Linked DNA regions of Homo sapiens: region 2 is linked to region 1. The links come from fine-mapping of genetic effects on gene expression. Tissue or cell type: aorta. Region 1 holds a variant in brackets; the other region holds the start of a gene. All regions are shown on one strand. Distances are between the middles of the regions.

Region 1 (8,108 bases):
AAGAATTAAATGAGCAATGAGTATTATTGATGTCTGAATATATCTCACACTAAAGCAACACTTCCCAACACTTCCCAAAGCTAACAAGTCAGCCAGAAGGAGAATTGATCAGCAATAGAAAATCATGGAATGAGAGTACCTAGGCAGACCTTGTGTGTTCAGACTCTGCAGACCTCTGGTCCATATAACACATGCGTCTCAGTTAGAGATTGAGACTTTTCATGATGTCCAAGGTTGCTACTGCCAGAATGCTGAATCTATCAGCAGCCCTTGTTCTACATACAATTTGGTTTTATTCATTCAGCATATATTTATTGAGCACCGATAATGAAAATCCTAGGTCTGTTCCTTGCTCTCTTCATGGTGCATGACAGGAGAGCAATTCATCCAGTTTGCATGTCCCAGGTTTCTGCATTATTTGGCTTCCAGTAGGATCCAGACAACAGGAGACAACAAAAGATGAGAGAGGGAGGAGAGGAAAAGCCAGGTAGTTCCCCCTTTCCATCTTTGCCTTTGTCGGCATCCCCGTCAACAGCTGTGTCTGTCTCCCCCATGACTCCACTCCCCACTGTGTGGGGAGCTGTGTATCCTGCTGTGGTCCTAGCCTCCCTCATGTGACCCTGGCCCCTAGGCTCTGGTAGTACTACCCACTCCCTCTGTCCCTTAAGCCTCCAAGGGTGGTACCAGCTTCTTTTGTTGTTAGTCTCAGGGCTGCCTCACTGTGCTCTGGTTGTTTCCTCAGCCTCTTCTATTGCTTGTGCAACCAAATCCTCCCATTAACTTCCATTCTGTAGGAACTCAGAGTTGTTTCTGCTTTCCCATGTGGATCCTGATTAATCACGTATCAAGCACAATGGCATGTCTGGATAAAATGGAATGCAAAACCAGGAATAGCCCCTGCCCTCATGGAGTTTATAGTTTCGTAGGAAAAGCATATTTTCATAGAATAATCCTAAAATACTTATGAGATGATTGCACAAGATTGAATAATTGAAGATTATCAAAAGACTCACAAGATTTCACAGTGTGTATTTGAGTAAGGTTTTAATACAGGTGAAGGATACATTAGGACACAGAGCACAGATGATCACAGAGGGGTCTAGGGCTTCCAGGCACAGCCCCCCAGGGTCCATTTTAATCACTCGGTACAGGACACATTTTATCTTCAGATTATATACGATCACCGTAAGTGTGAGTCCAGGTATATAATTTATTGAGGGGTCTTTCATACCCACCAGCCATGTAGCTAAACCCAGGCTGTATACCCTGTTAGACCAGGTACAAACTATCAGTCTATACAGTCCTAAACAATGTAGACAAGCTAATACAGGCTGCCTCCAGGGGAATTTCGAGCTTTAAATAGCACATTGCACATTATAAAGTCCTCAGTAGCACATTTCATTCTTACCTTGACCAGACTTCAAGCATCCCAGGAGACAAACAGAGGGCTACCCCAGGATAGCTGCAAGGTAACGCTACCTTATACAACATATGAACTTATAGTGGTGCTACAGAATAGGGGAAATTTTCACTAATGAAATGGTATTTTAGCTGAACTCTAAAGAATGAGTGAGGAATTAAGTTGACCCAGAGGGAAGAGAGGAATTGAGTAGAAGCAGCAGCATTTTGCAGTGCAGACCCATTCCAGCAAGTGAAATAAAAGCAATGTGACAAGAAATAAATAAAAAATGGTCAGGGAAAAGAGGCCAAAGCCACATCCTGGAGAGATTTGTAAGACAACCATATGGATTTGGAAAGTGATGGATTTCCATTTGATTCTGCTGATTCGTCCCTTGTCCTAGAAATTTTCTTGACTTTAGCAACACCACAGTTTCCTGGTGCTTCTCAATATCCTTTGTAGCCATGCTTTTTGCATCAGGACTCTCAACACCAGCAGACAATAACAAGAGAATTATTAAGACTTAGAAAAAGAGAATTCTTAATACAGAATTTCAAGGGGTGGATTGAGCAAGACTGGAGGCAAAACATCTTCCCTGAAAACCATTTCTCTCTTCCTTGCTTGCTGACATTCTCACTGTCTGGCTCCCTTGCTCTCTCTACTTGGCTTTAGTCTGTGTGAGCTCCAACCTTAGCTAGAATGTAGCAAAGATGTCCACCAGAAGCTCCAGGGTTACATCCTAGAACTCCAAGTGAAATGAGGTACTCTTTCCCAGCTGGTCCTGTGAAAACCCTGATCGCACTCTCAATGGTCAGGCTTGAGTCAAGGGTCTTTCTCCACACCAGTCATTATACAACAGGACACAAGATTCTGATTGGCCAGATCATTTTGTCAGCCCATGACTCAGGGAATGAGTCACTCTACCCAAAACACCAGACTGCTACTTGTATAGGTGTGGGCTCCCAAGAAAAAGTAGGGATTATTCTTCCCCAAAAAAAGAGTTAGGGATGCTGGAAAGGCAGAAAGAAAAGGGAAGGGAAGAGGAAGGGGAAAAGGAAAGAAAAAAAAGAAAGAAAGAAAGAGAAAGAAAGAGAAAGAGAAAGAAAGAGGAAAGAGAGAAAGAGAAAGAGAAGGAAAGAGAAAGAAAGAGAAGGAAAGAGAGAAAGAGAAAGAGAAAGAGAGAGAAAGAAAGGAAGGAAGGAAGAAAAATGAAGGGAGGAAGGAAAAAGGAGACAGGAAGGAAGAAAGAAAAAGAAGAAAAAAGAGAGGGGAAGAAAAGAAAGGAATAAAGAAAGAAGAGAAAGATGGAGAAGAAAACAAACCAAAAAAGTGGCTACTACAACCTCCGCCTGACCATTAAATGTCGGAATTTCTCAAGACTCAGTTTCAAACCTTCATCTCACACTACGAGCTCTCCCTAGGCAAGCTCATTTGCACTCTCTCCTTGGAATGACTCCCACATTTGTGTCTTAAGCGTAGTTATTTCATCTAAGCCTACAGAAACATATCTAATTATACTTGACATCAGTTCTTGAATTTACAAACGCTCCTGAAACTCAACAATTCCCAAATCAAACTTTAGACCTCTACTGCCCATCCTTAAGTCTAGTTTACTTCGAGTGTTTTCTAGTTCAGTAATGGAACCACCAACATTCTGCTATGAAAGCCAAACTCCCAGATATCATCATGACTTGCTTCCCCAAGCACCCACCCACCCCAATTCAACTCCATTTAATCTCATAAATTCTTGTGACTCTTCCTCCTACTATCTCCACCCTTACCGCCGTAGTCTACCTTATCATCTTACCCAGAAAACTGTAAGAAATATTCTGATCTGTTCTTTTATCTCCTTCTGTCCTGCAGTCTATCTATACATTGATGCCAGACAAGTCTTTTCAAGGATGAAAAGTGATTACTTCAGTACTCTACCTACCATCTAATTAAAATACTTTCAAAATTACTGATTTTCTTAATAATATAAGAAAATGTATGTGAACATGGCCTATGATCACCTGAGCGGTCTGAGCATACTTACTCCTCCCCCAGATCAGGCCTTTAAACACTCTGCTGTAGACAGTCTGTTATTTTATTTTATGTACATGCTCCCACCTTCCATTAAGTTTTTGCATAAACTGTATCCTCCTTGTCCAGGAATTCATTCTCCCTCCTCTTCCCCAATACCTCATCTGCTTAATTTTCCATTCCTTTTTCATCTCAGAGAAATCATCTCTTTGTTAGGGCAGACTTCCTCACCTTCCTCACGAAGTTAAATTCTCTTCCTATATACATTCATAGATCACAATGCACCTTCCTTCACGGCACTTACCGCAGTTGCAACTATATCTTCACCTGTGCAATTATTTGAATAATATTTAATTATTTGACACCATAACTGTCATGACTGAACATTCCAAAATATACCACATATTTTCTGGCCACATTGATGGGATTATAACATAATATAAACTTGAATTATTTTAAAATTTGTGCACAACTGAAAATCACGTATGTACTTTCTCAGTGCCTCTTTATGTGGAGAGTTTATCTTATACTAATTCATCCCTGACTATTGTACTCCTGAGTTCCTGCCTCTGTTCTTTAGAATGGTTTCTATTTTTTTTCTGCTGGACTGTATTAGCCTTTCCTTTTGCCACTGGGAACATAGCTGTTTGTAGCTATCCCAGGTGTATAAGTAACCTAAATGGCTGCTTATAATTTCTGCCCACTAGGAGAGGGACTCCTTTACTCCATTAGTCTCCTGTTTGAATCTTAACTCTGCCCCAGGCTTCAGGATACATAAACACTGCCAATCATTCTTAAGAAGTGAAGGGATTGCAAATAAGCAAAGAAAAAGTA[A/T]TTTTAAACATTCTTTCCAAATGACCTTGCAAGAGTTTTTTCCATTTTTAGAGGGAATAGTGGGAGTCAGAATTGGCAGAATAAAAGCAGCGTATTCCTAGACCATATATCAGCAGATAAATGTGTTCTGCAGCATTAAAATTACCCTTGTGGTGCTCATTCCTGGATGTACCATGTGTTCTGTGATGTAAATCAGTACATAGCCTTATATTTTCCTCTGTGTCATGGACCCACAGAATTGCAGTAGCATGAACTGGTTGGCAACAAAATTCTTTCCAGTGCTTCATAAAGCCTTTGGCTTTTCTTCATTTGATATGTGTGAGTAGGAATGCACAAAAAACAAGAACAGATGATATTATTTAAACCGTTTGGTAAGAAATGTCTGACAGGAAAAAAGAAAACATATGTATCGATTCAAGTGCAGTAATTCGCTTGGCGGTTTTCTATATTATCCTTTCTACTTGTAAAAATCATCTCCAATGCAGCAAAATGTTCTTAAATCCTTTATACTTCATTCTAAAAATCAATAGTCCAAAGATGTTAACTCTTTTTGGGCTTTTGGAAAACAAAACAAAAACCAGAAAAGAGAGGATAAATGTTTTCATTTTTATCTAAATTTTTCTGGTTGTTTCTGGTTTTTCCGTCTCCACTTCATTATTACTAACATGGAATTATTGATAAAGCTTAAAAGAAGAGAAACACAAATTCAGACTTTAGGAACTCACTTGAAATCCTTACTTAAAGACTAAAAGTCATTCATTTATTCATTTCATTCAATAAATACTAAGGATCTACTATTTTCCAGTTGGCCTCTTTGGCACTGGTGTATAATGCTACACGCAGCACTCACTGCTCCCTTGGTTCCTGCCACCATAATAGGGAGATAGCAATTAAATAAACACAGCTATATTATTATAAATTGGGATGCATGTTACCATGGAAAAGTACTGGGTGGAGTTTTAGTTTGAGAGTCAGGGAGTGCCTCTCTGAAGAAATGTCTACTATGAGACCTAAAAAATGAGTAGAAGTTGTCAGATTAAGGGGAGGAAAGGTGTTTTAGCCTGTTTTCTGCTACTATAACAGAATACCACAAACTGTGTAATTTATAAACAATAGACATTTATTTGGTTCATAGTTCTGGAGACTGGGAAGTCCAAGGTCAAGGGGCTGCATCTGGTGAGAGCCTTCTTGTTGCACCATAACATGGTGGAAGGGCAAACAAGCAAGTGAGACAGAGAGAAAAAGTAGGCCAAACTCCCAAGATAACTAGCCTACTGCCAAGATAACAGCATTAACCCATTCATAAGGACAGAGCCCTCATGACTAACCTCTTAAAAGCCCCACTGCCTGATAGAACTATATTGACAGTTAAATTTCAATATGAACTATGGAGAACAGTTTGGAGGTTCCTCAAGAAACTAAAAAAATAGCTACCATATGATCTAGCAAGCCCACTGCTGGGTATATACCCAAAGTAAAGGAAATCAATATATTGAAGGGATATCTGCACTTCCATGTTTGTTGCAGCTCTGTTCACAATAGCCAAGATTCAGAAGCAACCTAAGTGTCCATCAAGAGATGAATGGATAAAGAAAATGTGGTACTTATACACAATGGAGTACTATTCAGCCATAAAAAAGAATGAGACCCTGTCATTTGCAGCAACATGGGTGGAACTGGAGGTCATTATATTAAGAGAAATAAGCCAGGCAAGAAAAGACAAACATTGCATGTTGTCACCTATTTGTACGATCTAAAAATCAAAACAATGGAACCCAAGGAGATAGAGAGTAGAAGGATGGTTACCAGAGGCTGGGAAGGGTAGTGGGGAAATGGGAGACAGGGTAGAAAAGGTTAATGAGTACGAACAATAATTAGAATGAATGAATAAGGCCTGGTATTTGATAGCACAATAGGGTGACTGTAGTCAATAGTAATTTAATTGTAAATTTAAAAATAACTGTAATTGGATTGTTTATACCAGAAAAGACAGACGCTTGGGGTGATGGATAGCCCATTTTCCATGATGTGATTACACATTGCATACCTGTATCTAAACATCTCATGTACCCCATGATGCAACTACCATATATCCACAAAAATTAAATATAAAACATTATATAAAAATTTCCACATAATTTTCAAAAGGGATACTCTATAGTGGCGTGGGGAGGCAATCTACACATGAGGGGGAAATACCTGCCACAACTCTGAGGCCAGAAAGAGCCTGGCTTGGTGAAGAGCAGGAAGAAAACCAGAAAAGCTTGCACAAAGATGGTGGTAGCAAGGGGAAGCCAGCTTAGGACAAGGTTGACGAAGAGGACGGGGCCAGATATCGAGGAACTCGCAGGGAAGAGTAAGGAGTGTGGATTTCTTTCCAAGTTCAATTGGTTTTCACATTGCTGATAGCATCTCCCAAGTGATTACAAGTCACATTGCTCTGTATCATCCATAAATTATCCTCAAGAACTCCTAGGGCCATAACAATTTTATGAAGGACTCAGCTCTGATAATAGAAAGTCAATATTTTTAGTCTCTAGCTTTTCAAGTAGGCAGCTGGAAGTATAGCCAAAGGATTTCAGATTTCACAAATGTGAGATCAAGAGACATCTGCTAGTCTCTGTTCAATCTCTAATTTTCCTGTGTCTTTCTAAGTGACACAGAATTAGTAGGCTTAGAATTTGCTGTAAAAACTTGTTAAATCCATGCTTTGTTCTTTAACAGCATCTTAGCTCTTCTGCTTACTAGCTTTGTGACTTGGCAAGTTGTTTGACCTCTCAGATTCTGTTTTCTCATGTATAAAATAGGGACACACTACAGTAGTGATTAGCACTATTCACCAAATATTTCCTGCTCTCTCCACTTTGGACACACGGTAGGATTATACTCTCTGCCCCATTCCCTTGTAGTTAGGTGGTGTCAGGTGACTAGTTCTGACGAATGAGCTATGCATGGAAGTGAGGTTTGCCATTTCCAGGCTGGAGCTTTTGATTGCAAGTGTGAGGCTCTCTGAGCAATCCTCCCCTCTGCTGCCGGCCGCTCTGTCAGCCTAGGAAATATGGAGTAGGATGCAGAGTTGCCCATCAATGGACATGGTGGGTTATAAGCAACTGGGACTTTAGGTTATTGACCAGCCTCACTAACAGACTTACTTCATAGGTTTGTGATTAGAACTTGTATTCATCCATTCTTACACTGCTATTAAAAATACCTGAGACTGGGTAATTTATAAACAAAAGAGGTTTAATTGGCTCACAGTTCTGCAGGCTATACAGGAAGCATAGCAACTTCTGGCTCAGGGGAGACTTCAGAAAGCTTCCAATTATGGCAGAAGGCAAAGGGGCAGCGAGGCACTTCACGGCCAGAGTAGGAAGAAGAGAGAGGGTGGGGAGGTGCCACACACTTTTAAACAACCAGCTCTCATGAGAATTCACTCACTATACAGTATCAAGCAGCGGACGATGCTAAACCATTCACGATAACTTTGTCCCCATGATCCACTCACCTCCCACCAGGCCCCTTCTCCAACACTGGGGACATGGTGATTTGGGTGGGGACATGCATGATTTGACATGAGATTTGGGTGGGGACACAGATCCATACCATATCAGAACTTAATGGGATAATAGACACTAGGCAATTGTTATACTATCTGGCACACTATGAAGTACTAAATATAGGTTTCTATATTTCAAGTAAGCATTACCGGATTTCTCTGCCCAAGCATTTGCGTAGCTTTCAGGATTTAATTTTCAAGCCCAGAATTGAATGATTCAAGTTACCGTTAGAAATATTTACCCTGACATTTAATTATACATGCAAATTATTGGCCATCGTTTGTAAATCATATTTT
Region 2 (8,108 bases), 150 kb after region 1:
TTCTGTTCTGACCTCTGGCTGACTTGCTTAGGTATATTTTGAGAGCATTTTCTGCCCTGATTCTTATTTAAGCTGTTTATTGGATATTGATCTCTGAATTCCCTCCTTGATTGTAATTTGAACTCTCTTCCTTTGAATATGTTGTTTCTGTTCACCTCAGGTTAACAGCCTAGACTTCTTTCTTGAAATTCGCCACAGCGAAACCTTGTGATTCAGCCAACCAAACCAGTAATTCATACTCATCCCTCTAGCAAACGAAACCCTGAAGTTGCTAATGAGAAAAGGCATATGCAAGCCACAGTGTGTTGAGGCAGAGAAGGTAGCTGCAGAGGGCAGAAAGGAGTCTGATGGAGCTGGAGGAGGCTGTACTAAAACATAGTGATTATGAGCTTGGGCCCTGGGGTTCAAACCCCAGCTATCCCATTTCTTAGCTGTGTCCTTGGCCTGGTTATTTAACCGCTCTAACCCTCAACTCTCTACTCAATTTTTCCTAGACCCCAGTGCTAAGCATATGGCAGGTGTTCGATATTGAGTAAATGAATAAGTTCATATAGATGAAAAAAACAAGGCCCAGTATGATTGATACATATCTAATTAATAGCTAATGAAAAAAATGGCAATCCTCCATATTAAAGCCAAGCTACATGTCATTTCTTAGAGAAATAAAGTTAAAGTCTCATCAAAATGATAGATTTTATTTAGCCAATACTTCATAGTGCTAGACATGACACTCAGTGCTTCATAATTTCCTTGTGTATTTGCTATAATTATTGTCTCCATTTTACCTATGAGATAATTGAGATACAAAGAGGTTACAGAACTAATATGATTCCTAAAAGATTTACTCAAGGAATACTGTGATCCCTAACAAATAGCCTTTTTGAAGTGTACTAATTTGGACTACCATTTTCTCTGCCTCTCTGTTCCTAATTGTCACAGGTTCTTCCTCCCTACTGGACCACAGGCGTGTCTCAGCATTGGGAAGGGTCCTAGGATGCATTGTAAAAGAAAGTCTGTAATTTTGGTGCATCAAGGAACAAAAGTGTGGAAACATCCAGCCTGTGGCTGCTGGACACTCCCCTTCTTCCTTCTCACCATACTGTCTGTAATAAAGAATAAAGTGTTATTTAATATTCTGAGTGTACAGTCCTATTTTTTCTTAACCTGGCAAACCAGAAACAGCAACTAATATTCCTGGTTCTCTTTTTACCTTTCACAAGATCTATATCTACCTTAGAGGCTTCAGGGAACAAGAACAGCCTGGATAGTTTAAACCTAGAGTTAAACTACTCGAGGCATTTTAAGGTACCGCTACTTCACTATATATAAATGGGGTGGGGGGCTGGATTAAGGGCTAGAAGAATATATGAAGAGAAAGTGGCAAGCAAACCACTTGGAAAGCAAACCAAGGAATCAAAACAGTTGCTCTATCAAACTGAATATTCTTGCGCAGAACTGAATATTCTTTGCCCTCACAGTGTTTTGAAACATTGTCATAGGGTGCCAGGCATGTCCCAAAGGAGGACCCTGGAGAGAGGGCTTCTGAGCTGGGCTATCTCTAAACTGCTTCCAAGTTGACTTTGGAAAGATCACATGGGATTTTAGAAAAGTTATTATTATTATGACTTATAAAATTGTAGTTATTGAGTCAACTATGAATCTTGCACCTTACCTTGGAGATACAAGCTAAATACCTTGGACCTAGAGCTACTGCAAACCAGAATACTTTGGGGCATAATGTACCAAAAAAGCTTTCAGAGGCTTGAATTATCACAGTGTAAATATCCATCTAGCAGAGCAGGTAATTTTCTCGTTACTCATCCTAAGCATTAGATACTCTGTGTGTTAGTTCTTTGCAGAAATAACCCATAGCAGCTGAACCATTTTGGAACAAATTTTCCATCACCTTCCTTCCCTGTGTGGTTCAGGCCTTTGCAAACCCTGAGTATCATGAATCTGCTGGTTCTCTACTGGCAAAGATGATGACGTTTTCTTGTTTGTTTTTGTTTTGCTTTAATCATGCCGTGAGAAAATCCTAAGGGAAAAAAATCTCATTATCCTATTCAAAATACATTTAGGGTTATCTGGTCATCCCTAGCAGATTTTTATGTACCCAATGTTTATGTATCTCAAATTACACTCTGTTACCTTTCCCAGAGCAAGATGAAGAACCTCTAAGAACCTCTCAAACAGCATCATTTTCACAACAAGCACTAGCAATGGAAAACATTGTCACCACCACCAGCTAATCTTGTAGGGTCCATGGTATTTTCTGTAATGCCTTGAAACAGTCTGCCTCTCTCTTCTTGTCTGTCATTTTTATAGATGTCAGTGTGGGGCATCAGCAGTTGAAAACTCAGAATACCAAGCCAGTCCTTCCCTGTGACTGCTACATAGCTTTTGCCTGCAGGATAAGCCTCCATCACTGACGTAGTTGCTTTTTAACTTCTTTTTTTTTTTTAACTTGGAAAATCCCCCACCTCCTCCATTCCTTCACAAAACTTTCTGCCTGAATGATTTCTAGTCTGAGGGCCATACACACATTTTTTTTTCTCCCTCTGCAGGTTTTTTTTTCTCTTCAAACTTCCGCATGCTGCCTTTTTTTAAAGTGTCACACTTTGGAAAAAATTCTGACTACAAAGGATTTTGCAGTACATTGCATTCAAACCCCTTTCCCCCTATTCCAACTTGCTTTATAATGAAAGTAAGAGCCATACTCAAGAGACTTTTATTGGCAATTAAGTATCTAAGGACTTTGCAGATTTTCTTCTTTATTGTATGGCAATCTTAAATGTTTAATGAATATTTAAGTAAACAAATTTCAGCAACATGCCTTTTTTAGGAATTTGGCTTTAATTAACATCCAAACACTGTTAATTATTATGGCAAAAACATCAATACGTCAAAAAAAAGCCTTCAGGCCAGGGAATCTTTAAGAAACAATTATGTCTACTAATTTCGATTAAAGGTATCCTTTATTAAATTCTTAACAACCCGTCTCTTTCTAAACGCAGCGCCTTCACAACTCTTCTTCCCTTCCCCCTACCCCGCTTCCCTCCCTCCGCAATGGAGCGCAATCAAAGGCCGTATTATTGCCTAAGCTTGGCTCTCAGGCCAGCTAGGGATGTGTGTGTGTGTGTGTGTGTGTGTGTGTGTGTGTGTGTGGTGGGGCGGGGGTGGGGGGCGAGGGTGCAAGGGGAGAGGTTGTACGCCGCTTTTCCGAACCCAGCTCTAAATGGTTTCTCCTAAGCGAGACAAGGATTTTCCATAGCCTAAAAGAGGCCATCAAGTTTTAACATTGCGAGGCACGACTTCTAATCGCATCCTTCCCGGAAAAGTACAAACAGTTCCTCAGACGAGGTCCCCCACCTCCCACGCGCTCCCCAGCCCTCCCTCCCTGCGGAGAGCCCCGCGACAGCCTCCCCAACACCTGTGAATCATCCGGGAGGCTGCCACCGCCGAGCGATCCGCGCACCACCCCCTTCCCGGGCCCGGGCACGGCCAGGGAGGACAGTTAGGGTTGTTGCTTTATAATTATCACTTTTAATCTCTAATACGACCAGCACAAGTAGCCTTTGTCTCCCCGCCCTGATTTGAGCATCCGAGGGCCCCCCGAGGCAGCCTGCACGGGTACCCCGGGGTTTGCGCACTGAGTGAACCCCCAGATTCGGCCGTGTCCCAGCCGTCCTTGCTCTGAATCCCCCACCTCCTCCCGGCCGTTTGGACGGTTCCCTCGGGGCGTCTGTGCCTCCGTGGGGTACCCCTAAGACACCCAGCATGAAACCCCAGCACCGACTGCAAATTCCACCGAAAGCAGAGTCATCCGTTTTTGCCCTCGGCAAACAACTCAACTTCAAGCCTCGAGTCCTTGCAAACCCACGCTGGCTGGGCTAACTCCGCTTCCCTTCTCCTTCCCCCGACTCCTGCAACAGCTCAGAGAGCCTGGCTCTGACGTAGTTCAAAATAACGTGCGCCAGCCTCGCTGCCCGGCTGACCACAGCAACGAGAGCCACAAGCCCTCGACGCTGCTTCGATAACATGAAGCAATCACTCATAAAAATAGCAACCCACGTAGCCTGGCCATATATGGAGCTGGCGAGGGTGGACGGGGATGCCCCTACGGACCCTCTTCGGAGAAAACAAATCGCCGCTGAAATTTCCCCCACCCCTCCCATCACTACCTTTTACCCCTCCTCTGCCTTCCCCTCTCCTTAGATGACTCAACCACAGATTCCACTGAAAGGGGGTGGGGGTGGGGGTGGGGGGGAATATATACACATACACACAAATTATACATATATTATACATGTATTATAAAATATACACACACATACATATATACATACACACACATATACACATATGTACACACACACGCACACACACCAAAGAACATCAGGAATGCAGTTGCGGGATGAACGCGTTTGCCCAAGACCGAGTGTTAAAATGGAGTCATAAGAGTCGCCCCGTGCGGGTGTTTATAGAAGGTGAAAACACGCAGGTTTGCAGGCCAGCGCACTGGGAACCGAGTCAAGCGCGCCGCAGCCCGGGCCCCGCCCCCGCCCCCGCCGTGCCCCGCCCCCACTTCCTCCCGCCCCTCGCTGGGCGGCTATTAAAAGCTGCTGACGTCAAAACGGACGGCCATCTTTGATGAGGGCAGAGCTCACGTTGCATTGAAGACGAAACCTCGGGGAGGTCAGGCGCTGTCTTTCCTTCCCTCCCTGCTCGGCGGCTCCACCACAGTTGCAACCTGCAGAGGCCCGGAGAACACAACCCTCCCGAGAAGCCCAGGTAAGAACCCCCCTCCCCAGGTCGTGGCTCTGGCTCGGGATGGCTGCATACCCAGAAGGGACAGCAGCTGGGCAGTCCGAGTGGGCTTGGGTAAATACAAGTATTGGTGCACTTAGGGTGCGGTATTCCGTGTGTGCACGTCTGGTGGGGGCTTTATAAAGTGTTTTCGAGGTGAGCTGCTGGGGAAAAGGGAAACGGGAGCCCTGCAAATGGAGCGACGGGGAGGAAGAGCGAGGGTACGTACCGAATAATAACTTACTCTTTTGAAACAGTAGTGGGACCCCCTCTTTCTTCCATTTTGCGATGCAGTTTTCAGAGATATTTAGGCTGTTGAGTTTTCCTCCCCTGTCGTTCTAACCCTATTATTATGACTGTTGTCGTTAGGGTGCTATTATCCAGGGAAGAATTAAGGGGGAGACAGGGTGTGGGTGCTGGGGAGGCGAAAGGAGAAAGGGGGAGTTCCCGCCCCGGGCAAGCTGAGCTGCTGCAGCGACAGCAGCCTCCATGCCCCGCGGACTTGATTTATGCCGCCTGCTCCACGTCAACTGCAGGCTGGCGGGAGGCGGGCGGGTCGTGCCGGGTGGGAGGGCTCTGCGGAGGGCTGGCGCGGGTGGGCTGGCTTCGGGGACTGCGGCGGCCCGCGCTCAGCACCCTGGATAGCAACACCGAGGGCTCGCGCGGGCGCCCTCGACCTTTCAGCACCGGGGACAGCGGTCCGGCCGCAGCGCCTCATCTGCCTGCGGCAGAAATGCCTGGCCGGGGCTGGATGTGCCAGGGCTGGAGACCAAATTGTCTCCCTGAGACCCCGGTCTTACGGAGACCCTTAATAGAGGAGTCATAGTAGCTTAAAAGAAAACAAGAAAGAAATAAATCTTCCTCACAGAGACTCCTTTGCAGACAATTTCCTGTTCCCCTCCTCACCTCCTGCATAGCTTCAACAAAATAGTCTACTTGTGGAAATCTTCTGTGTTGCCCTCTGACCCTTATTTTACGTAGAAAATAAATACATTTTTTAAAAAATATGGATTTATCCTCCAGCAGGGTATCAAGGTTTTTGTTTGGTTTTGTTTTTTAACACAGAGTAGATCTGTCTACAGATCTTGGGTGAGCATAAGTACTGTATATATGAAGAAGCCAATGCTATCTGTTTATAGGGATGATACATCTCTCTCTATGTTTCCATTTGATAAAAATGTGAGATTAGCTGAACTAAGCAGAATCAACTTTAAGAATGAATCACTCTTCCTTTTCCTTCTTCCCCCATCCTTGCAATCAGGCATGAATACAAGCATTCATCCACAAAAACACATATCTGAGAAATTTTACTGGTCCTGTACTGAATAGATTTAACCTCTTTGGCCACGGTTTCAGAGTTACTGGAAGTATTTGCTATCAGCACTGGTTATCGCAGGCTGATAGCTTTAGATTTTGACAATATTAAGACTGGCCTTCCTCAGGAGAATCCAAGTGTGTCCTTCAGGGTAATGCAGGTAAAGAACCATGGTGTTAAACTAGAACTTAACTCTGACCTAAAGGTCTACTGCAATTTCTCTTATGGCACTGCGGGATTTTGCTGAGGTGGTAATAACTACTTTAACCATTTTCTACTCTGAGGCTTGGAGCATCTGAGAGAGCAAAAGTCATCAGGGGTATTTCTCTCTGTTTGATGTAGATAAAACTGGCATAAAAATGACCAGAGTCAAAATTATGCCATTTGAGTCATTAGCAAAAAAGAGTAACAGCGTCATATGTAATAATCTATACAATGCATTAAAGAAACGCTATCATGATCCCCTTAAAAGACCCCAAATGAGAACTTGGATTGTGTTTAGATAGTCATACCTCCTATCATCTGTATGCTACAGACACTAAAATTCCCTGTCCATATACAGAAGGTAATTTCATTCGCTGCTATTTAATTATTTCCTAGTGTTTTTTCTTTTTATAGATGACCATGTGTTTCCATGTATGTATATGTTGATCTGTTATTTTGCATGGATGTAAAATTATTTGGGTGGACATTTATATATGAGTATGTAAACGTATAAAAGAAGTTTATAACTTTGCAATCTGCAGACAAAAATAAACAACTGTGTTTTAGTAGTGGAGGAGAGAAAATATGGGCAGGAATCTTTAAAAATGCTTTAACTTCATGCTGCATGTCCAGACAGCTGTCTGCGTAGTTGCGTCAAATGAAAAGCCTAATGCTGCCGGAATTACGTGCTTGGACATTAGTAATTACTGCTGGGTTTGTTTGCTAGTGGAAGACTGGGGAGGAGCGGGGGAAGTAGAGGACCGCAGTGAAGATGGCAAAGGGCACAGAGCTGAGAGGAAGAAGCAATGTGCACAATTAGAAAGCTAATTTTAGAATAGCTTACTGAGAAATTTAAAAAATATATCATTGAACCATGAATTTAACATTTATATCATTGACAAGCTTCCAGGGAAAAAAAATCGAGAAATTTCCCATTTTAAGTTAGAATTTTTAAAATCCAGGGCAATGCGGTGAGAAGAGGCAGGAGCAGATGGACATAGGATGAGCCAGGAGTCATTCACACAGACCCTCTGATGCCTGTTTGTTCATCGGCATTTACTGCATTACCACCTCAGTGTTCAAATTACAGAACAATTTACAATCCTCTTAACCTCTTCATGGCAAAATCTCCCAAGAATTCACAATTTTATTTTTACTTTGTTAAACACGCACAACCACACATGCACAAACACAATGCAAACTACCCGTTAATTAGCTTGTCTAAAGATATTCCCAAGCTCTAAATGTTAACCCTTGAGTGAGGGTTATCAGCTGAAAGACATGTTTCTGCCAGTGACACCTAGAAGCTGCGTAAGCAGTCAGCCTTCAGCATAACACGTAGGTTTTGACGATTAGTAGAAACGAGAAAAATAATCTGAGAAAGAGGTTGAGAGAGGAGACATGAAGGAGAAAAATAGAAAATATGCTTTTTAGATAATTCACTATGAATAAACAATGTTTCTCACATTATGGGACTGCTTTACAATTCTATAAAAGAAGGAAAAATCTGTGTTTTAAGCCTCAGCGCTGGATACTTTCTGCAATGTCATCCCTTGTCAGCAAGTACCAACCTGATAGGAAGATACTGATCAATCGGTATTCACCGGATACAGAAATGAATCCCATGGGAGTTATAAAATTTCATGGTTTTGTCTTGACCTCAATAAGTTTAGCATCTAGCAATCTTAATAAAAGCAATAAACAATAAGTTAATAAATAAAACCAGAATTAAATGCAATAAAACATTAGAAGACAAATTTTGAGGACATATGTGATTAATTTC

What was found. PIP is the estimated chance that this variant, and not a neighbour inherited with it, causes the effect.
Region 2: it holds the start of SNAP25, and the variant in region 1 is fine-mapped to the expression of SNAP25 in aorta (GTEx, PIP above 0.99). The same link has a PIP of 0.9 or more in tibial artery.

The regions. Positions count from the first base shown.
Region 1 is chr20:10,063,061-10,071,168 of GRCh38, forward strand. The region is part of intron 3 of SNAP25-AS1 (SNAP25 antisense RNA 1); the gene reads right to left. Among named protein-coding and RNA genes, the nearest start is that of ANKEF1, 32 kb to the left of the region's middle. The variant A/T (reference allele first, on the strand shown) is at 4,256.
Region 2 is chr20:10,214,187-10,222,294 of GRCh38, forward strand. It overlaps SNAP25 (synaptosome associated protein 25), which reads left to right and starts at 4,644. Exons shown (of 8, transcript NM_130811.4): 1 at 4,644-4,791. SNAP25-AS1 (SNAP25 antisense RNA 1) reads right to left here and starts at 5,320. Exons shown (of 5, transcript NR_040710.1): 1 at 5,051-5,320. LOC124904959 (a long non-coding RNA gene) reads left to right here. Exons shown (of 2, transcript XR_007067723.1): 2 at 940-1,133.